Linked DNA regions of Homo sapiens: region 1 is linked to region 2. The links come from fine-mapping of genetic effects on plasma protein levels. A gene starts in region 2. The other region holds a variant in brackets. All regions are shown on one strand. Distances are between the middles of the regions.

Region 1 (11,518 bases), 22 kb before region 2:
CATGAGTTTAGCCAGCTTCTTCTGGGACCCTTGAACCCCCTCAAAACCTGAGAACCAGTGAACTCAAACATTCCAAGACCCTGTATGAGTCAGTTTCTTTGTAAGTGATGCGGATATGGCCATTAGAGTCCACTCAGTCATCTAAGGTCAGTGTCAACATCACCTTGCCCCTAGTGCCTGAAGTTAGTTCCCCTACATGACCCCAATCCTATACCCCTAGGTTGTGGAACCACAGGCCCCTATCACATCCAGGAAGAGCTCAGCTCTGGGTCAGACTGATGCTTTCTCATTGGATGGACCCCTTTCTTGAATGGGGTCCAGTCTAGCAGGAGCCATGGGGCAAGATGGAATGGAGGATGGGTGAATATCAGGAATAATAACCATGATACTGGTGTCTACTGAGTGCTTACTATGTGCCAGGCATTGTGTAACAAATCAATAAAGTACATAATACCATTATTTCCATTTCACATATGAGGAAACTGAGGCTCATGGAGATCGTCAGTTGCTCGGGATCACTCAACCAGCAAATAGAAGACACTAGCACTGACAGAAGATCTGTCTGACTCCAAAGTCTCTACTCTTAGAAAAGAGAAGGAATGAGAGGACATTTTTGGGGGGATGACCCCATCTCTGGTGACATTTCAGATGCATTGGGCACTGCGGTGCAGCATTTGGGGCACAAAGCTGCATAAGGGATCTCTCTGGGGAGAAGAGGCCAGAGCCAGCAGTCTACCTCAGCCAGTCCTTGGGGGTATGAGGGCAGCTGGGAGGCTGGCTGAAGCCACTGGCTCTCCAGAGCTTTTGCTGAGGACTTGCTCAAAAGCCTCTTTGTTCACTGTTCCAGCTTCCACAAGAAGCTCTCCACCCCTGGGTCCTCAGGGACCTTGGGCTGCCCCACCAACATACAGGGGTCTCCAGCCCCTCCCACCATCAGCCAGAAAACAGCCAGCCCTCATCACTCTACAGGATTTTTAAAAGGATGGGTGGCTCAGGGACAAGGGACAGGACTGCTAGGGAGATGGGGTGGGCAGGAGGGACTGTGTTAGGAAGAATCAGTGGAAGTCCTGTAAGCCGGCTGCTCCCCAAACAAACATTTTACTTCTTTTGGAGGCCAGGAATGAAAGACTTATTAGCTGTTTATATTACTTAAAAGAGTTTTGCAGATGCTTATTAATTTGTAGTTATTAATATTAATTATTATTGATTATTAAAGGACTCAGAATCCACTTGCTAACACTGTTTTCTCTGTCTTCTTCCTGTAATCCCTTCCATTGCCCCCTTCCAGCCTCTATGCTATCAGAAAGAGTGAGGAAGACTGGAAAATATGCCAGTGGGATACTTGACAGGTTCCCTTGAACTGAACTCCAGCCTTCTTCATCCCCAGACTGGCATCTAGAAGGAACCAGAGAATGCAGGAAGGAGTCCCAGCCTGAAGGTTCTGGAGGGTAGAGTCAGCTCCACTGGGAGCAGGGAATCAGGGCATCTCTAGTGCCTTTTCTACTTCTCTTACTGGACACTCCTAAGACTGGTTTTCTTCCACTTTTTTGCTATGGCCCTTCTGGATCTGAGGTCTGTCTCCTCCTGAGGGTAGGAATGGCAGTCACTGTTGCATTTCCTAAGCTCAGGAAGAATATGATTCACAGCTCTGTGGGAGCCTAACTTTCTCTGGCTCCTCCTGCTTGCCTGGGCCCCACTCCCAAAACCTCTCCTGCTCCCTGCTCCTGCTCAACAGTCACCTCCTGCTCCGCTCTGGTACAGCCTGTCTTTCTGCTCTGGGGCTTGTGGTGTTAGGAAGTCCTCAGGACTAGGTGGGCCAAGGACAGACTAGAAACTACTTAAGGCACAGGAAGGCAGGGGTACTATATAAAAAATTAAGATTTAATTTCTGATATTTCATATTTTTAAAGCATCAAAGTAATCCTCATGGCAAAAGTTAGAACTTCGTCAGACTTCTTTATACTTAATCGTTAGAATTGCTTTCATTTTGAATACCAATCGTTTCAAAACTTGGTATTTGTAAAGGTTTTAATCCAGCTCCAATAGTTTTGCACTGTCCCTAAACAAGAGAAAAAGCAGCCTGGAAAAATCAGCCCTGCATGGCCCCAAAATGGGGGCAGAGGGATGGCAGAGTGCTATGAAGAGCACAGCATTTGGGGCCAAGAGGCTTAGGTTCAAGCCTCAAAGCCATCATTTGCTAACTGAGGGCCCTTAGAATTACCCTCTCTGATCCTCCATTTTCTCCTAAGATGGGCATAATCTTATCTATTTACTACCTACATAATATTAGCCAGTTACTTCGCATATTGTAGTGAAGGCCAAATGGGGTTGCAGGTGTCTAAGCACATTAAAATAGTCACTGCATCAACATTAATCGTCATTAGAGCAAAGAGTGGAAGGAACGTCCCATAGCGATCACTAGAAGCTTTACAACAGCATCTTGTCCACTTCCCAGCCTCTAGTCTAACTCAAACATATCCAGGGAGTAGACCCCAGCCCGCCTCACTCTAATTCTGGGCTCAAAACTTAGGAAGGTCTTTCTGTTGCTGAAATAAACACTTCTTGGTCTCATGAACAACAATCGTTTAATTCAAGGCAAATTTCTAAAAGGGTTCCCTTTGCTTTACAAACACCACCTGACCAGGCCTGCAAGGGAAGGGGAACCATTTTAAGGGGCCCCCACCATGCAGGGCCGCTTGGTCACTGTGCTATCGATGAGGACATCATCTGCAAGATCACTGTTTTCCCTCTGGCCGTGGTTGGATGAAGCCCAGTGTGCTGTTCTCATTGTTTGGGCGCAGCATCACAGGCTATGAGTTGAAAATTGGCTCTCCTTGGACAGTCCTCAAGCACTACATTTTTTTCAGTGACTCTCACCAGACCCACAGATGAATTTACCTTCTCTGCGTATGCCTTTTGACTGGTTCTGTTTCAGGGAACCGCAAGCTCAATAAGCTCCACTGTTCTACCAAGCTGGACAAACAGCCACGTCTCTGTTCTCTTGGCCAGACCCTGAGGCCTGGAGTCCTGCCTTCAGGAATTCCAGAATTCTAGAAAGTTAGAGCTAGACAAGACCTCAGCCTTCATCTAGTCTTGCTCCAACCACTGTGCGGATGGGGAAACAAGGCATGGGCTGGGGATGACTTAAGGGGTATAAAATGTTGGGCTTTCTTTTGTCAAGCCCAGCATGTGCCTCCTATAGGCACCAGTGGTCTCTGCAAGTCCTGGCCTGCTGGCCTCGCAGCCACAGAGAGCTCGGACTCTCTCAGGCAGCTCACTTCATTGCTGGAACAATAGCAATGTTCTTCCTAATGCTGGGCAAAAATTGGCCTCCCGCCTTCCTTTAATGCTCACCTGCTTGTGCAGTCTCCAAGGAGAGATAGGTCTGGCCTGCATAGAACAATTGGAAATTAATTCATCCTTAAAGGAAGTGGAGCAGACTGTCCCAGGTCATTCTTGGGCAGCCTCTGCCATTAGATTGGAGAGAAGGCCCAGCACTCTGGGTCTACACAGACTCTGAATATAGAGACCTGGATTCATGTTCTGTTGCCTAAGAGCTATTAATACACGATGGTGAGCATGTTACTAACCTGTTTAAGCCTCAGTTTCCTCTACTGTGAAAACAGAGGTAATAGGAGTTTCCTATGTTGGTTCATTCTCCGTATGGCTCACCCATGATCCTAAGATGGCTACCTAGAGAAATATGGCTAAAGGAATGGGTCATTCCCTCTTGTCTTGCTGGCACCATACAACTTGGAGAACCTGTTCAGATATGCTTCCATAGATCTGCTCAACAGCCCCGGGAGGTAGACAGGGAGGTTTACTATTTATGGTTTACAGATAAGAGAACCAGGCTGGGAAATTCTAAGTGGTTTGTACAAGATCACCCAGCTAAAAAGCAGGAGAACTGGGACTTGAATCCAGGCCTCCTGAATTTGGTGACAGTGCAGACTTGCTCCGTGCCATCAGGCCTGGCTCCTGGGAAGGAACACTTTGAGAAGCCTTAGTGGGGCTTGGTCTCATGCCTCACCCAGGGCCTGGCCATAGTGGGTGCTCGGGGGACCTTTGTCTTTTCTGCCACAGCCTGAGCCAGAGTGGAAGCTGGGCTGTGCAGCAGAGCAGGAACCCAGCAGGTGGCAGGGACAGCCTGGCTGTGCCTGCTTTCTCCCTTGGTGGTGGGGACCACATGCTAAGCTACGTCTGTAAACATGGCCACAGCCTCTTTCTGATCCCTTGAGCTCTGTGTCTCTGCATACACGTCTCTTGGTTTTCTTTCTCCTTTGACTTCACTCTCCTCCCCACTCTCCCCATGCCCCTCCTCTGTCCTGGATTTGATCTTCTGTCTCCTGGCCTCCTTGTCTCTCTCAACATCCAGTGTTTTTTTCTCTTGTTGACTTCCTCTTTCCCTCTCTCTCCCTCAGTTCCTCCTTTGGATCTTCCTGGGTCGAGCAGACAAGTGAGAGGCTTCTGCCGTGCTCAGGGCAAGAGGCTGCTGAGCTGCCCTTCCGTCCCCTCCTCCCTCCCCACACATCCCTCTCCCTTGCCCTGGCCCCTCATCACCTTGGCTGGCTCCTCCTTGATGCATGGGCTGAGGCGAAGGTACAGGGAGGCAGTTAGAGCAGCTTCCCTGGATACAAAAGCTTCTTTCTACCCCTTGGAGATGAGGTTTCCAGGCAGGTTATTTTTATAGCAGGGCTCAGGCAGGATTCTTCAGAGAAAATAAACAAAGTCATACACACCAGTCCTTCACACCCTTCAGCCCCTTCCCTGGAGAGGGGCCCAGCCTAGCTGTGCCGACACAGGGACGCCCACCACCCCAGAGGGGCTGTGGGGGCTGCTGCCGGGATATCAAGAGGCCAGGGGTCTGGGATGGGGGAGGGGGCGCCAAGGAGGGAGACTGACACAGGTCCCCTGCAGCCCCAGTCAGGCCAGGAGGAGATGGCTGGAACCTTGGGGTCCCTGCCTCACCACTGGGGCCAGAGTCTTGGGTCCGGCATCTGTAGGGGAGAGTCAGATTCAAATGCAGGCGTAACCCAAATTTTCTAAATGCTTACCAAGTGCCAGGCACTGTGCTTGCAATTTACAAACACATTTTACTTATTCCTCATCACTGAATTCACTGAATTCAGTAGAAGTCATTTCTACAAGTTGCCACTTAGTATTGGCCTCTATGTGCCTGGCACTCTGTTAGGTGCTAGGGAGACAAGATTAAATGACACATGGAGAGAGAGAGAGCTCAGAGAGCTTTCCAGCTGGTGAGACATTGATTGAATCCCTTACTATGAAGATTTCAAGGTGGATATTTTTATGCTCATTTTGCAGATGAGAAAAGAGACTTAGTGAGGTCAAGTGACTTGTCCAGGGAAGCTTGGACCTTTGATGTCAAGGGCATAAGGGATCAGGGACTCAGAGATCTCTTGGGGCAGGTTTCTTGGGGGTAGAAATGTCAGCTAAGAGGGTGTAGAGGGCAAGAAGCCTGAGATGGGATAGGAGAACAAGGTACAAATCCACGTGCAGTTTTCCTGGGGTCTTGGGCCATTCCAGACCTAGGGTGGAGCACACGTGGTCCCTCATTCTTGAGGGCAGGCAGTCAACAATATCTTGTCTAACAGATCCCAGAAAGGAAGGCCTTTCATAACCAGATTGGCTGCAGTCTTCTCAAAGCTCTTTTATGAGGAAGCCTCAGGTTAAAAAAAACTTCATAAATCATGTGCATTCCCCGTCAGGCATGACAAAAATACATGACCCTTGTGGGTCCCTGCCCAGTGAAGG[C/T]AAACAGCTCACTGAGGCAACGCTGGGAGTGCACACAGGCCTGCCACTGTCCTCCACCTCCCTCAGCCGAGCATGTTCCCCAGCTCAGGGCAGCCCCCATCATCCTTGACAGGCCAGGGAATTCCAGATACCAGACAATCATTCTAATGACCCTTCAGGAGTGAGTTTCAGTGTGCTGCCTTAGCCTCCACAGGCATTCGGCCTTTTTTTTTTTTCTTTTGAGGTGGAGTCTCGCTCTGTCACCAGGCTGGAGTGCAGTGGCGCGATCTCGGCTCACCGCAACCTCTGCCTCCCGGGTTCAAGCAATTCTCCTGCCTCAGCCTCCTGAGTACCTGGGACTACAGGCACACGTCACCACGCCCAGCTAATTTTTGTATTTTTAGTAGAGACGGGGTTTCACCATGTTGCCCAGGATGGTCTCCATCTCTTGACCTCATGATCTGCTTGCCTCAGCTTCCCAAAGTGCTGGGATTACAGGCGTGAGCCACCACGCCCGGCCTCATTCAGCCTTTTTATGACTAATTCTGGAATGAAGGAATGTGTCTGTTTCAGAAGTTCCAAGTATCAATAGGTAGAGTTCTAGTGAATTCCCAGAGTCTGGGGAGCCCCAAAATAACATATTCTAGTGTCTACGTTTGCTTGTCTTTAAAAGGGAGCTAATAATACTCACGTCTTGGGGTACGAAGAGTTTGCAGACAGGCAGTGCCGAGCCCAGCATCTAATGCATGGCAAGCACTCCAGCCTCCTCCTGTGCGCCAGGCTCAATCTCCACTCATTCATCAGGCGCGTGCCCAGTGCCTGTGGTGTGCTGAGCGTGCGCTGGGCGCGGGGTTCAGAGTCTCCTGGGGCCCAGTCCCTGCCTCCAGGAGTTTACACAGAACAGCCTCTGAGACTCCCAGCATCAGGCAAGACAAGCTGGTGTCCCTTCCAGGACCCAAGGCCTTCCCTCCCCAGCCTGAGGCAGGGGTACCCTCCCTCAATTCCCCAGTTACCTTCCCACCACTCTCCAAGGTCTCAGTTTATTGTTTTTTCATTCTACCGGGGGCTGACCTTAGTTGTGGTTTAATGGCCTTTTCCTCCTGCGGCCCCTCTTAACTGACACCTGGAATGCCTCTCTGAGCTGCCTCTCGCCTTTCTGTCTCTGCTAATGAGGTTTCTAACAAAGCCATGTGTCACTGGAAGTCTGCTCACAGAGGGACTGCTGGACTGTAGCCTGGGGGACCCGGGCTCTGTGGGAGGAAGGGGATGTGGCAAGGGGGGAGGGCCGAGGGAACACAACATTTCTTTCAGAAAAGGCTGAGGCCTGGGGCGAGGGAAGGCAGGAGGCTGGAGCCCGCTCCCTCTGAGCATGCTCCAGGGTGGCCACAGGCTGACGGCTGGAGAACTCACCCCAACCCCCAGGCTCTGGAGAACTCGCCCCAATCCCCAGGCTCTGGAGCTGTCATTGTAGCCACCTGAGCAACGGCTGAAGGACCAGGGCCTGGACCTTGTAGGGTGCACCTAACTTAGTGTCTGGCACAAGGAGACACTGGGTGTGTGCTAGTGGCTTCTCTCTAGTCTGTCCACGTGGGTGGGCTTCAGAGAAGATGGCCTTGAGTGTCCCCAGGCACTGTCCTTTCTGTGCCGGGGAAGGTCTATGTGCATCCCCAGCCAGGCCTGCTCCTGGAGGATTCCGTCTCCTAGGCCAAACTTGACAGAGGAAGATGAGCTCCACGAAGAGCCCTGGAGACCAGACCTTCCAGAGAAGAGACGGCTGTGCGATAGCCCAGGAATAAGTGCTCTCCAACTTTCCACAGGGCTGTTAGATCCAGGAAAGAAACTCAGCTCTCAGGCTCAGGGATCAAGAGATTGTATGTAGAAAACACCTCATGGTACATCCATAATCAGCCAACAGATCAAGCACCTACTCCCTGGAAAATGAGTGCTGAAAGGCTGCTCTTGGCAAGAACTAAACTCCAATGAAGGCACAGCCATGCAGTGTACTTGCTGTTACTGTGAATCTGGTACTGTCTGTTCATTCAGTTCTCCCAACAAACCTGGGAGGAGGAAGATGTTGCTGCCATTGCCCCCCATAACAGATGAGGCAACTGAGTAACAGAGAGGTTAAGCAATTGGCTCAAGCACACAGAGCTGGCAAGCAGTAGTTATAAGATTAGAACTCGAGCCTGAACTCGAGCATGATGCTGTACTATCTGCCCCACTTGCAGGGAGGGGGAGGTTTGGGAGCCTGGGAGAAGGTGGGGGAGCAGGAACAAGTCAGGCCAGTGGGCAAATCGTGTCAGCAGAGCAGTCTAAGCAGAGGGGAAACCAAAGAGAGGAGCCACGCCGTCCTGGCCCTGAGTACACTGGGCCTGGTGGAGAAGCCAACCAGGGACAGAGACAGGAAAGCTGGATGAGAAGGGCCTTGGGTGCTGATCTGAGGAGCTGCCCTGTGCCTGTAGACAGTGTCTCAGTAGAAAAGTCTGGCCAAGTGCAGACTGGAGGGGACAGGCAGAACCATGACCCAGGGAGCCGGGACAAGTCACTAGAACTCTCTGGATAAGGAGCAGGCCCCCTCTCTGACCAGCCCGGGGCAGGACCTCCCTGTGTAGAACAAAATTGTGTCCATCAGACTGCTGTGTCCAGACAGCTCTAGGTGAGGGCTGAGATCACATGCAGTGTTCCCAGATCGATTTGCTAGATCTGAGGGTCACCTAGACTATGATTGTTTTTATGGTTTCCTTAAGTCAACTTTCTCATTCTCTTTTACTTTACTCAAGTTTACTTGAAATGAAAACTCTGTAACATGGGATTGATATTCTACCTTTTCCTCCAATACTTATTAAAATAAATCTGTTTTACAGGTTTGGTCCCTGCCAAAATACATACACATGTACATTAAAATATAGATACTATATATAACACTATTAGAATGCAAAACTTTCATCCAAGTTCTACCTAAAATCACCCAGGGACCTTTGCACTTAGGAAACATTGTCTTGTGGCCTATCCCTTGCTCTCCAGTTGAAGTGACCTCATTCAAAGATTTCACATTTGGAAAAGGCAAATCAGAAAATCACTCAGACCCAAGGGAGGGAAGGAGGCCAGGCTTGGGCTGGGGGCGGGGGCTGGGAGGCACCCTGGTGGGCTTGAGACCCAGGGGCTGGGGGCAGGCAAGTGAGCTGCCTAGGGCCGTGAATGAGGCCTTGTTGAGAGCCGTGGCAGCTCGGCAGTGTGCAGAGACCATGCTGCAAATGTAAAGTTTCCAATAACTTTTATGGGTGGTTTCTTAATAAACATCTGAGCAGCCTGTCTGGACCGAGAGCTGTGTTGTCCCAGGCGCCCAGAGATGGAGCTGGGTGAGGGGCTGCTGTCTGCAGTGTCAGCCTCTGCACCCCACCCACAGCCTCCCACGGCATCCCCTCCCCATCTCCCCTTTGTCTTCCTCTGTCTTCCTTTTTACTTCCTTTTCGCTGTTTAATGAGAACGACTTCCATTTGCTATTTGTTGACTGAGTCCGGCACTGCATTAAGCTCTGTCTACATTTTGTCTTAGTGCTTGCAGGCACTTTATAAGGTAGACGCAAGTATTGTGCCACTTTTACACATCAGGGAACGTATGAACACATCAGGTTGCTCAGCAATGAAGTGGAAGAGCATTGATAGCCCTTTGGGCACAGATCTGTGTGCCTCCAAAACCCATGCTCTGAGCGCTGGTAACCTCTACTCCTCCTCTTCCTCACCTTGTCAGCATCAGCACTCCACCTTCCCTTTCCTCCTCCGCTTCGAATCTCAGAGCCAACTTCAGCTAGTGCCTCTCCCTTCGGAAACACCTCCGGGAAATACCTCCTCCCAGATCACCCCTGCCAGAACCAGCAACGACTATGAGTACAGCACGTGGGTCTGCAGGTTAGTTGACTTGTCTGTGATGGGACTGATTAATCGAATGCTGAGACACTTTTGTAGCCATTTGAAAGCCATTTGGGTTATTGGCCCTGGCTTCAGATAAACAAGATAAATAAACCTCAGCAAGAAGGAAATGGCTTCTGGGGTCTTTCTCAGAATTTGGTACATCAAAGTGAAGTCCTAGATGGAAGGGTACACTTCCCACAAGCACCTTCCAGTGGGGTCCCTTGCTTTGTTTAGTTGACTTATCACTAAACATATGGGCTATAAGATTGATAATATGTTTTGTAAAAAGGGTAGATGCTCAATGGCCTCGTTGGGCCTATCCAAAGATAGAATGCTATGGGAAAGGAAAACACCTTAAGAAGAAAAGTTCTTGGGTGAGGCGCGGTGGCTCACGCCTGTAATCCCAGCACTTTGGGAGGCTAAGGTGGGTGGATCACTTGAGACCAGGAGTTCGAGACCAGCCTGGCCAACACGGCGAAACTAAAAATACAAAATTTGCCAGGTCTGGCGGGGGGTGCCTATAATCCCAGCTACTCAGGAGGCTGAGGCAAGAGAATCGCTTGAACCTGGGAAGCAGAGGTTACAGTGAGCCGAGATCATGCCACTGCACTCCAGCCTGGATGACACGGCAAGACTCTGTCTCAAAAAAAAAAGAAGAAGAAGAAAGGTTCTCAGATGTCAGGAGACAGAAACAGTGACCTTGAAGTGTAAACACTGAACCCTTAGCTCACAACAAATCAGTTAGAATGTATTAGCTGCATTAGAACTGTCCACACTGACTTCAACCCTGTATTTCTTGGGTCTGGAGCCTTTTGTAGGGCTCCGTGTGTGTACATATTCTGCAAACTCCTAACCTGGAAGCAGTCATTTGGTGGCTATAAGCTGTGAGCAAGAAATGCTCCAATTATCTGTGCATTAAGATTAATCAGAACTCTGGTCACCGATGCATATATGTGTGATGCTGAAGCACTGCCTTCCAGCCTCTCTGTGGTTGTGTTTGTCTGATAATTATAAGATCCGTGAGGACAGAGGCCACAGATCAGGGATGTCCTTCTTCCGAGATGGAGACAAGGGCAGAGCAGGTGGCAAACTGTGGCCTTGTGTTCCAGGGGGGCGTGTCCACACTTCACACTCTGATTGTGCTGGCTTGCAGTGTGGCTGGGCCTCTCGGGTTGCAGCACCCTCATTTGTTCTACCCTAACACAATCAAGAAAGATAAAAAAGAACACTGTAGCCAGGGAATCTCAGCTGCTGTGCCAGTCACCGGCCATTCATTGTGTGGGGCTGAAGATCTAGCTGGGAGTCAGGTCTAAGAACTGGTTCAGCTCCTCCCCTTGCCTCATCTGTGAAGGCTACTCAGAGGAAAGAAACATGCACCTAGGCTCTCGAAGCCTTCACTGAAGGACAGAGAGTGCTTGTTACAGGCAGTTCCTTCAGGGTTGAAATTCCATTTCAGGTCTCAGCACCTAAAGTCATTTTTCTTTCTTATTTATGTTTCCTGTGGAAAGTCTGAAGAAAAACTGGTGGAGCATCTTTTGAGTTTGCATTTGGAAGGGAGAAAATATGCTCCTTCTCTGCTGGGCAAACATTGCAAACATTGGTGCTTTCACAAACCAAACACAAGCTGGTTTTCAAAGCCTCCGGCTTGGCGACCCAGGGAACTGGGGGGAGGGGAGGAGAAGGATGCAGCCACCTGGGCTGGGGAGGTTTGCTTTGGGAGCAGAGGTTGGAATTTGTGAATTTTCTACTCCAAGAAGATCCAAATAGTGCAGCTCCAGCCCCATCCTGCGCAAGCTTGCTCAGGCAATAGGGGCTCTACCTGGCTGGGGTCTCGATGGAGAGCCAGGGCCTTGGAT
Region 2 (10,887 bases):
CTCATGCAAACATAACTTAAGACAAAAATTTTTATGAGACCCAAATTAAAAACAGATAAATGATATTGTCTATTTGTGGTACGGCAGGTGTGTGCAGGAAGGGTAAATAAATCAGATGCAGACCAAGAAGAGTAGTACTTGCAATAATAAACATTTACTCTAAGCCTCCCGTGTAAAGCATTCTCCCGAGGCTTTATGTTTGTTACTTCATTTACTGCTCACAACAAGCCCATGAGTAAATTACTATTATCCCTGTTTTACCGATTACTTCTCTGATGCTCAGAGAAGCGAATTCACTTGCTCAAGAGGACGGAGCCAGGAAGTGCAGTTGCAGCATCTAATCTGGGGAAATTAAAAGGCAGCCAACCCTCACTTCTTTGTATTTTTACCCAGGAAAGCATTAAGAATGTGGTAAGTTTCTAGGCACTTTTTTTTTTTCTTGAGACGGAGTTTCGCTCTTGTTTCCCAGGCTGGAGTGCAATGACACAATCTCGGCTCACTGCAACCTCCACCTCCCAGGTTCAAGCGATTCTCCTGCCTCAGCCTCCCAAGTAGCTGGGATTACAAGTGCCCGCCACCATGCCCGGCTAATTTTTTTGTATTTTTAGTAGTTTCTCCATGTTGGTCAGGCTGGTCTCGAACTCCTGACCTCAGGTGATCCGCCCGCCTCGGCCTCCCAAAGTGTTGGGATTACAGGCGTGAGCCACCGCGCCCAGCCTCTAGGCACTTTTAGGATAAAGATGGGCCTCTTGACAGGCTTGCATGGGAGGAAACTGGGGCACATGCAGGATTCTTTCCTCCTATCCCCCATGAGAAAGAAGCTCATATACCACTGGCTAAGGATTCCAGAGTCGGGTCTCCGCGAGGCAAGGAGCAAAAGCCATTATGAGGACCTCGCTGGTAGCCCAGTTAAGCTGCCAGACGAAACTCACGATTGGAGGTACAGTTACAATTGCAGAGGAAGGCAGGTCTCTGCAGATCCTAAAGATTAGTTACACCATGGGACAGATGTGACCAAGCTGCTTTCACTACCCAAGCCTGTGTCAGGAAGAGCTATTTTCAGTGAAAGGGCAGAACAGAGCGCTTCTGTCCATGACATTGTATTGTGCTACAGCACATCATAGAATGCCACATGACATCACAATATATTATAACTTGTTTACCTTACAGTTTGGCTTTTTGTGTATCCCCCGAGAGGTAGTCATCTCCTTGCATGTAGGATTCATGTCTAATAGAGCTTTCTTTTGTCCCTCCATACCACCTAGCAAGTGCCTGGCGCATAGCTTGTGCTCAACACAGGGGATGAAGAAATGCTGGCCGAGGAATGAGAGGGGGAATGGGACAGGAGGGAGGATAGAGTAAGGGGAGACAGTCGAGCAGGACCCCAAGATTTTGCACCCAGGATTCTGGGAGGGAGAGTGTCAAGGGCAGTGGGTGGGTGATCAGCTAAGGAGCTGGCCTGGAGGCTGGAGTGGAGATCGGGGCGGTGCAGAACACAATGGGGCCCTGGCTGCCTCCGGATAGGTGCTGGGTGTGGGGACAGCTGAGGGGCCCTCATGGGGAAGGGCAGCATGCACTGTCCTGCTCCCTCTCAAGGTTGTTTTTGGCAAAGGAGCTCACTAGAAACTTACCACATGTATGTTCCCTGGGGCTTTTCAGGGACTTCCTAGAGGGCAGGCCCACTGCCCCCCGCCCCCCGCACTGGAGCAGGATAAACTTGGTTTGCAGGGGCCTGGCTTTCTCTGAGGTGGCATCTACCCTACTAGTCCTAGGGACATCATAGTTAGCTCCTTGCTTTCCTTGGTATGTCCCACCTAGGAGGAGTTCATCAGTCAGGAGTCCCTGGGGGGCAGGGCTAAGGGGCCACCACGGGAAGGAGGCTCAGGTGGCTGACTCCGCTCCCCTGCTGGCTCTGCCCTGACACTGTCTCCATGGAATCCAGGGCTCCAGTTCTAATCATGGGTCAGTCTCTTCCTTGCACTGAGCCCAATTCCTACTGGAAAAAAGGGACATAGGAAAAGTGACCCACCACCTGCTTTAAAAAAAGACCGCAGGAGGCTTTACAAAGTCATGCATCCATCATCTCCTTTAGGGTCCTCCATCCATTCCTCTCCTTAAAACTCACTTCTCCTTTCTGCCACCTTTAACTCAGGCTCCTCCTTGCCTTGTCTGCCTCCAGTGCAGGCCTGAGCCCAGTCATGTGTGACTGCAGACCATGCAGACCACACCCCTCTGTTAGCCAGGGTCGTATGGAACTTTCCGTGGACCAAGATTTAGACCAGCACATCTCCAGCCTTCATGGGCATATGAGTTATCTGGAGAGTTTAGTAAAAGCCAACTCTGATTTGGTAGGTTCGGCTTTTCCAACAAGATCCCAGGGTAGGTTGATGCCGCTGGTCCATGGACCACATTTACTATGTGACCGCACTGTGCCAAGCAGGCTTTGCAGGGGAAAAGTTAAGTGTATTAAGTTATGGCCCCTGCTCTCAAGGAGGCATGTGAATAGACTCACATGGGATTTCTTCACATGTTTGAGGGAGGAAGGGATGGATGGATGGACAGATGGATGGATGATGATCTAAAGGCATAACTCCATAGAACTGGCCATACCCAAATGCAATAGGAGTTCAAGGAAGGGAGAGAGATGGGGAGAGAGAGTTCCACCTGTCTCGTGGGTTGTTGACCTCTCAAAGGGTATCCCTTGGAACCCCCATGTTGTGTTATTGCTTGAGAAGTGCCTGGAACAGATGCTCTGTGGCTGTTGGGAATGGTTGTGGTTTACTGTAGAACCATTTGCTTCACATGGAACTTCTGCTGGGAGTGCTCAAACATCTCTGCATTTAAGCATTTGTGTTCTTCCTAGAGCTCAGAACCATCAAGAGCTGATGAGAGAGACAAATGCTCCTTAAAGGCAGAAAGCTACCCACCTTAAGAAAATGCAATATTTCGCACGACTTTTGTTGTCTTTGTTTTTAAAGTGAAATGGGAAGATCATTTCTGTATAAAAATACAGACATTTCTTCAAAATGTAAGCCTTTAAAAAGCCCAGACACCTTTATCTTTTCCCGCAAAGGTCTAGCTAGTAGGAGGTAAGAAGAAGAGGGGAAAGTGAGAAGAAACGTAGATCTGAGCCTGACTCGGTGGCATTCAAGGAGTCCTCCATGTCTGGCCTTGCCTTCACCCCTTACTGCCATGTCTTATTCCCAGGGCCCTGCAGATGGCTCCACATTGTCCTGGGGCCACTGCCATGTCTTCTGGTGCATCTGCCCTTCGTTGCTTCCATTTGGGAGCCATCCTGCCCTCTCACTGTACCTCTGCATTTCAAACCCCCACCCATGCTTGGAGACATGCTTCTCTTAGGAAACCTCCCCCCAGCTTACTCCATGGCTTCCAGAATGCCATTCTTTCTTTCCTTTCTTTCTGTTTCTTTCTTCTTCTTTTTTTTTAGGGGGTTGGGGAGAGTGGGATACCTTTTTTGCAGCATTTTGTACAATCATTTTTTTCCTATTTCCCCTACAGATGCAGAGGTGGTATCTAAATCCTCTCTGTATCCCCATCTCATACAGAAGTAGGTGCTCAGTACGAGTCCTAAGCTGAATTTGTATGGCACTAGGACAGGATGGAGGAGACTGGGTGGGATTCTTGGTGCTATTTGCATTTGAGAATACATAGTAACACATTTATGCTCCTATGGAATGGAATGTACACCATAAATCTGGAAAACCCTATCCTGGACAGTCTTGATTCTGTTACTCTGCCCCCAAAATGCCAAAGGAAAACATAAACACATCTTGAAAGACTGTCTGAACGGAGCCCAACCAACAGAAGCTGAGTGTCACTGAGTAAGCTGGGCTCACCACCCCCAGGCACGGCTGCTGTGTGAAGTCTGTGCATTCACCACCTGCCATATTTGGGGTGGGCTTACCTCTTTGGAATGTGAATCCTTCTTCACTTTATCACTATTTTTAAATGGGATTTGTGTAGAGGAAGAGAAAGATATCTTTTCTTTACAGCCTGTCTACAAATATCTTTCCCAATAAGGCTGTGTCAACCTGAGTCTAAATTTAATGCCTCCATAAAAGAGAGAAAAATAGTGAAATGGTTATTTTGTCTACACGACACAATATTGCTGATTTAATCCATCTGTTTCTCTGAATTGGGCTGACTTGGGGTAGATACACTGATTGTGACTGTTTAATTTCTTTCTTTCTTTCTTTCTTTCTTTCTTTCTTTCTTTCTTTCTTTCTTTCTTCCTTTCTTTCTTTCTCTCTCTCTCTCTCTCTCTTTCTTTCTTTTGTTTGAGATGAAGTCTCGCTCTGTTGCCCAGGCTGGAGTGCAATGGCGCAATCTCAACTCACTGCAACCTCTGCCTCCCGGGTCCAAGAGATTCTCCTGCCTCAGCCTCCTAAGGGACTACAGGTGCACACCGCCACACCCAGCTAATTTTCATATTTTTGTAGAGATGGGGTTTCACCATATTGGCCATGCTGGTCTCAAACTCCTGACCTCAAGTGATCCTCTGGCCTTGGCCTCCCAAAGTGCTGGGATTATAGGTGTGAGGCACAGCACCCTATTGTACCTGTTTAATTTCTAACTGTTCTACCTACAGTTACCCATGCTGTACTTAAAGGTGTAAGTGAGGCTGGCCATGTGGGACACTCATCTCGGCCATCGATGCTCTTCTTCTACCAACTGGGGAAAACAGAAGCTCTTTGTTTTCAGTTCAGTGGCTCCAGAAATTGCAGCATTTCCTTATTAGTCTGACACTGCTATGATAGAATATTTTTCACATTAAGTGAATGAACATTTATTTACAACCTTTCTCAAATATGGAATACATATTTCCTGTCTCCTCAAAGAGACCACATTAAACTTAAATTAGCATTTTATTGGACATTTCAGTTTATCATTATGAATCGCAGGGACTACAGCAGATGCTGTAGATCGGGATATTCCCTGGAAGCATTGATGACTGTAAGGGCATTGACCCTACCCCACTGACCTTCGGCTACCATGTTTTGTATTTGTTGTGTCAACTTCACATTGCTTTTCTGTGTCCTCTCTTACTCTCCCTTTTTCCTGTTCTCATTGTGCTTCATCAACAACTGCTGCTTTCCTATCTCACCTCTAGTTTTCTGCATCTAATTGGTGAGGTCAGATGCCATTACGTGTTAATACAATATCTAAACTATGAATTAGCAGACATGGAGTAAGAAGGACTCTACAGTGCACAAAATGCATAGCTTTATATAACATCAATTCTGGCTATTTAGTGGTTTAGTTCCCCTTCTTTTCAGTTTCTTGGGTATGGTATGGATAGTGAGATTGTTGGACGATCAATTTCCAAATCAGTGATTTGCATATGTGTGCCACATATAGGTCTAATTCCAGTTTGAGTCACAAATTAGAGGTTTTTAATTAGTTGTTTGGAGTCACAGATGGGTAAAATATTAATGTTGGTGTTCAATTGGCTTTAGAATTTTAATAATTTCCATAGTTTATTTTGGCTTTGTCAATTTAAATTTTAAATTTTATTTTTCTTATGTCAATTCCCGTTGCTGGTGAAAAGAAATTTTCCCACAGTGGGTGGAGAGCTTAACTTGTACTCATAGATGGACCATGATTGCTGGAAGGAATCCAAAGCTCTTATATGTAGACACAGTCTATTGGCAAAGATGAATCACAGAGCTAGAGGATGAAATTAAGAACAAATTTGCAACGAGTCTGTACCACTTTGCTACTCACTAAACTGGATCATTTTGAACTAGGCTTCGATTTTTTCCACATACTTTAGTGTGTTCTCCCAAATTCTTTTTTTTTCTGTTGAATTTTTATGACAACTTGTATTTGAAGTCAGTTGTATAAATGCCTTTATAGTTGTATCTAAATTATTAGTCCACAGGGGCTTTCCTAACTCCTATGTGTTAGAATTGTGCTAGGCACAGTTCTTGTCCCCAAGCATCTTCCAAGCTCATTGATGAGATAAAGACCAATGGATATAAGGGGAAAAAATTAAAACTACACAAAAACATATGTAGCTTAGGCTATAAATGCCAGGGGGATTCAGAAAGCCAGGGAGACGTTGTGTTCTAGAGATATCAGAGAAGGCTTCTCAGAGGGGCTTTAACCTAGGAGGTCTTGATAAATGTGTGGAATTTGGTCATTCTATCTTCCAGGTAGAGAATATAGGACCTTCTGAGCCCCAAAGAGGACATGGGGCACTGATGGCAAGAGACCAGCTTTCTTCTAGCAGAGATTGGGCCTGAGGAAGAGCCCAGAGCTTAATGCAAGCCCCTGAATGGGAGCATGGAGACTCAGACAAGGCCCGTGGAAGGTAGGGGAGATGCTGGAAACTGGTTGAATTCTTCCCCATCTCCATCCAGACTGGACAAAGCCTAGAAGCATTTCCTTCAACAATGAGTTCTTTCCCTTTCCAACCAGAGCACTTGGAACTCCAGCCTCTACCAGGACAAGTGTCAAAGCATGATAGGCTAGGGATGGGGTCCCAGGACCCCTGGTGGAAGCCTAAGGCCCAGAAGTAGCTTCTTTCAAGTGCTCTCAGCTTCTAGGGGGAAAGCTCCAGAGAAACAAAACTGCCCAGGAGGGCAGAAGTTCTGGTTAAGTCAGACCCCAAATTCTGAGTTTCATTTTGCCTATAGTTCTTTGGGGGACCATATCGCTCAAAAGGAAGGTCTGTTTGGGGACGTTTCCTCCCTGGTATGAAAGGAGGCACCGGAGACCAAGAGAAGAGACCAGCTAAGCCCTGGGAAGAAGGCAGTTTGGCTAAGGTGAGAGAGGGCGCTCACCGGGGAAGGTGAGGTGAGGCGGCAAGCGGAGGGCTAGGGGGCCGACTGGGAAATTCTGGCGCTTCTCCCCGGCTCACAGAACTCGCCAGCTGGATCGGCCTCCCCGATCCCTGGCCAGGGCCGCAGCAGTGACCAACCGTCCCTGGCCAAAGCTGCTCTACGACGGCCGGCAGTGCCCACTCCCCGGGGGACTCCCGGACCCCAGCCAGGAAGAGCAGACACCACGTCTGAGCCTGGAGCTAGACAGTCCCCCCACAGCAGGCAGCTTGCACCGTTTAGTCTCGGCTCCCTCCGTCCTCTGTGGCTCTTTCAGTCCCCTTCCCAGGGCCTGCCCCTGCCCCCCACACCTTCACACAGGTCTCCTTCTGTGCAGTAACACACCAGCTCTTTTCCTGGCTGTCGGCTCAGGCCAACTTCGGCCTGTGCTCCAGAGGAAGCCTTCAACGCAGAGCTGGATGGGGGAGGGGTGGAGGGCAGTCGCTGTGAACGTCCAGGTGGGAGTCTGGGGACCAGGTACTGCAGGGAAGGGCTAAAAGATAGGTCGGGGTAACCCTTCAGATCTGGCTCAGCTAGCCTGTCTCCAAGATTTAGGACTCTGAATCTCTGTGGGCTCCTCCCTGTCCCCACTCCCAAACGCCTGACGCGGTGCCCCCTCGCCCTCCGCTGCTCCTTTCTACCGCTTTCCCTCCTCCCTCCCATGTCTTTTCCGTCCTTGGTCTAGGGCTCTCGGCCTGCGCCTCTGCAAACACCCCCTCCCCTCCAACTCCGGCAGAACTCCGAGGGGAGGGGCCGGAGGCCACCCTTCCCGCCTGTGGTCAGAGGGGGGCAGCGCCGCAGCCCCGGGTTTGGGGGGCAGGGGCCATCTCTGCGCCCCGCCCGATCAGGCCACTCGGCGCACTAGGGGTGGAGGGCGGGAAGCGTGACTCCCAGAGAGGGGGGTCCGGCTTGGGCAGGTGCGGGCACTGGCAGGGCCCAGGCGGGCTCCGGGGGCGGGCGGTTCAGGTTACAGCCCAGCGGGGGGCAGGGGGCGGCCCGCGGTTTGGGCGAGTTCGCCAGCCTCGAAAGGGGCCGGGCGCATATAACGGGCGCCGCGGCGGGGAGAAGACGCAGAGCGCTGCTGGGCTGCCGGGTCTCCCGCTTCCCCCTCCTGCTCCAAGGGCCTCCTGCATGAGGGCGCGGTAGAGACCCGGACCCGCGCCGTGCTCCTGCCGTTTCGCTGCGCTCCGCCCGGGCCCGGCTCAGCCAGGCCCCGCGGTGAGCCATGATTCGCCTCGGGGCTCCCCAGACGCTGGTGCTGCTGACGCTGCTCGTCGCCGCTGTCCTTCGGTGTCAGGGCCAGGATGTCCGTAAGTCTTCCCCCGCCCCTGCCTGCCTGCCTGCTTTCCATGCGTCCCTCAGCATCCTTCTCCCCGGCCCGCTCCAGCTCTGGAGCCCGCGGCTCCGGGCTAAAACGGCTCCCGGGGTCGTAGCGCGCCGACTTAGGCACAGGACACGCAGAAGTTCACCAAGAAGAGTTCTGCCAATCAAGGACTCTGTCCCAGGGTCCTCGGTGCCCATCGCAGTTGCAAGTATTTGCAGGTCCCTACGTTGCGCTAGAATACTGAACTTGCAAAGTGTTGGCTCGGAGAAGTTTGCGCACAGATATAAATGGGCTCTTTTCCACCAGCTTTGATAATTAGGCGCACATGCACACAGCTCGCCTCTTCGAAGCACTTCGAGTTCAGCAAAAACAGATCTCAACTCATCGAACTTAGGTGAAGTAGGAAAGAGAGAGCGCGAGCGAGGGAGCAAGCAAACGCCAAAGGGTTGACTTCACAGCCTGTCCAAGGCTTGGTGGCTGGTGGGCTCAAAGCAGAGTTAGACAAAGGGGACTAACACTCTGACACTGGTGGGCTGAAATCCCAGGCCACAAAGAACGGCTTCCGATAGGCCCTCTGAGACCTCAGCGCCTCTTTAGGGTACCCTCCCCCTCCCAGCTGGCCCTGGAGCAAGGTGCAGCCCTAGCGCTCATCTCGACTTCCCTCCGTCCGCCTGCGCCTCTCTTCTGATAAAGGGTACAGAAACTTCCAGTAGGAGAGGCCATCTGAAAGACGATAACATTCCAACCAGACCGTGCTTTTCAAATGCCCCCGAAAATAGCGCCCCCTTCCCCGCGGTCTTACCCCATTCCCCGCCGCCCCGAGGTACTACAATGAGTTACTTTTCTAAATTCTGGAACTCACCGAGCCAGGCTGCGTGGTGTGTGTGTGTGTGCGTGTGTGTGTGTGTATGTGTGTGTCAGGGAAGGGGAGCAGGCTGGTCGATTGCTACGGTTGCTACAACTATTTCAACCGGTATAGTTAGAGATGGCTCTTGTAGTCGGGTCCAAATGCTGTTCGGACTGCACCTTTCTACCCCTCCTTTGGTAAGGTCCACTGTCTGGGATTATATTCAGGACAAACGAAGCCTGGAAAGTGTATTAGGTAGAGAGGATTTTTTTTTCCACGTGTTTGGGCACGTTTCCGACGGCTGGGATTCCAGCCCTGTCTTTGTATGTTACAGATTGTAAATCAATCGCAGAGGGAAACTCTTCGGCGGGGGGAATAAAAGTTCTCTGCCTTCGAGGCTCTGTGGGCCCTCTCCTGCCACCAGGCTGTTTCCAGGGATAGCGTGGAAGGCGGCGGGCTCAGGCGGGCTTTCCGGTCATTAGCGCAGCGGGGGCAGGGCTGGAGCCTGCGGCGCAGCTGCGAGGAGCCGGGAGCAGGAGACTCTGGCCGGGTCACCCGGTAGTGCGCTAAGCTGGAGGCGCGCTCCTGGGCATTTGAGGAATACAGCGTGACTATACGTGGCCTGGACTCAGACTGACTATATTTTTGTACTACATTTACAAGCACACGCCCACAAAGCTGTCTTCTTGACTGACCCCTGCCTTAGTGCGCAATGGAATTAGCTGGGTGGCTTTAAAATAATTCTCAAATTCTCCATCCGGTATTAGGGTCGCTTGCTTAATTAGGCGGTAGAGCTCTCTCATCGCCGCATCTTTCCTGGGAGGGAGTGATTCCACAGCTTCTCCGGCCCAAACCTTCCAGTCGCTCCTCCTCCCAGAGGGAGTGTGATTCTGCATCCGAGAGGCTGATTTTGCGCCCTGGAGCATCCCACCTTTTATAACTTCCCCCGCCTGGGGTCAGCGGACCCAAAGGTGTGACGTGGGGAAATGCGCAGTCTGCGTGGACGTCAGGAATGTCAGACACCTAGAGCTCGGCCACACCCCTCCTCTCCATCTTTCCACGAGTTTGAGAAACTTACTGGCGGCGGCGTCTTTGACCCTCATCTGCATTTCAGAGCCCTCGCCTCCGAAAGTGCCCCTGGCTCAGGGGAGAGATCTCAATCCTCCTTTGTGAGGCTTGTTTGCATTGGGAGATTGGCAGCGATGGCTTCCAGATGGGGCTGAAACGCTGCCCGTATTTATTTAAACTGGTTCCTCGCGGAGACCTGTGAATCGGGCTCTGTGTGCGCTCGAGAAAAGCCCCATTCATGAGAGACGAGGTCCAGTGGGTTCTCTCGTACTCCCAGACCCCCTCTCCCACAATGCCCCCCTGTGCCCGCCCGCCGCCACCTCTCGGCTCCAGCCCTGCGCAGAGCGGCGGTGAAGCAAAACAGTTCCCCGAAAGAGGTAGCTTTTTAATTGGCTTGCCACAAAGAATCACTTATACGGCCCTGCGGTAATGAGGGGAACCGGATCAGGCGCGCCGGGATGCTATCGGCAGCCGTTTTGGAGCAGCAATTATGGTGGTGCTGGGCTCCTCCGTCCACACCTAGGGGATCCGGTTACGGCGCTGGCTCCTTTCTGGGGCAGTCATTTAATCCCACTTTTCACTCTCCCGGTGTCTGTGAGCGAGCCGTGTCCAGAGCCGCAGCCACAGAGTCACTCAGCGGCTCTTACACCCAGCGCAGCCTGGCCCCGCCCCTGCGCCGGCGCTTCCCGGGCCGCCCTTCCCCGGGAAATCTGATCCGCACGGGGAGTGGCCCCTCTCCTAGCATTTCCCCCTCTCCTCCCTGGGTCCTCATGGGCGAGGGTGGGCTCTCCTGTAGTCTGGGCTGG

Which allele goes with the higher level. Alleles are on the strand shown, and positions count from the first base shown. The strength of an association depends on the size of the effect and on how common the allele is.
For the plasma level of the protein whose gene starts at base 7,913 in region 2, T is the low allele of the variant in region 1 and C is the other (strong association).

Evidence for each region. PIP is the posterior inclusion probability: the model's chance that the variant is causal. The UK Biobank Pharma Proteomics Project read protein levels with antibody pairs (Olink). The fine-mapping took linkage between variants from a reference panel, not from the people measured, so its PIPs are less certain.
Region 1: its variant is fine-mapped to the plasma level of the COL2A1 protein (UK Biobank, PIP 0.98).

What each region holds. Positions count from the first base shown.
Region 1 is chr12:48,022,961-48,034,478 of GRCh38, reverse strand. It overlaps LOC105369750 (a long non-coding RNA gene), which reads right to left. Exons shown (of 4, transcript XR_944904.3): 3 at 4,561-4,708; 4 at 3,031-3,390. Among named protein-coding and RNA genes, the nearest start is that of COL2A1, 24 kb to the right of the region's middle. The variant C/T (reference allele first, on the strand shown) is at 5,773.
Region 2 is chr12:48,001,502-48,012,388 of GRCh38, reverse strand. It overlaps COL2A1 (collagen type II alpha 1 chain), which reads left to right and starts at 7,913. Exons shown (of 54, transcript NM_001844.5): 1 at 7,913-8,152. The coding sequence starts at 8,068. RefSeq lists enhancers at 1,042-1,541, 1,542-2,043.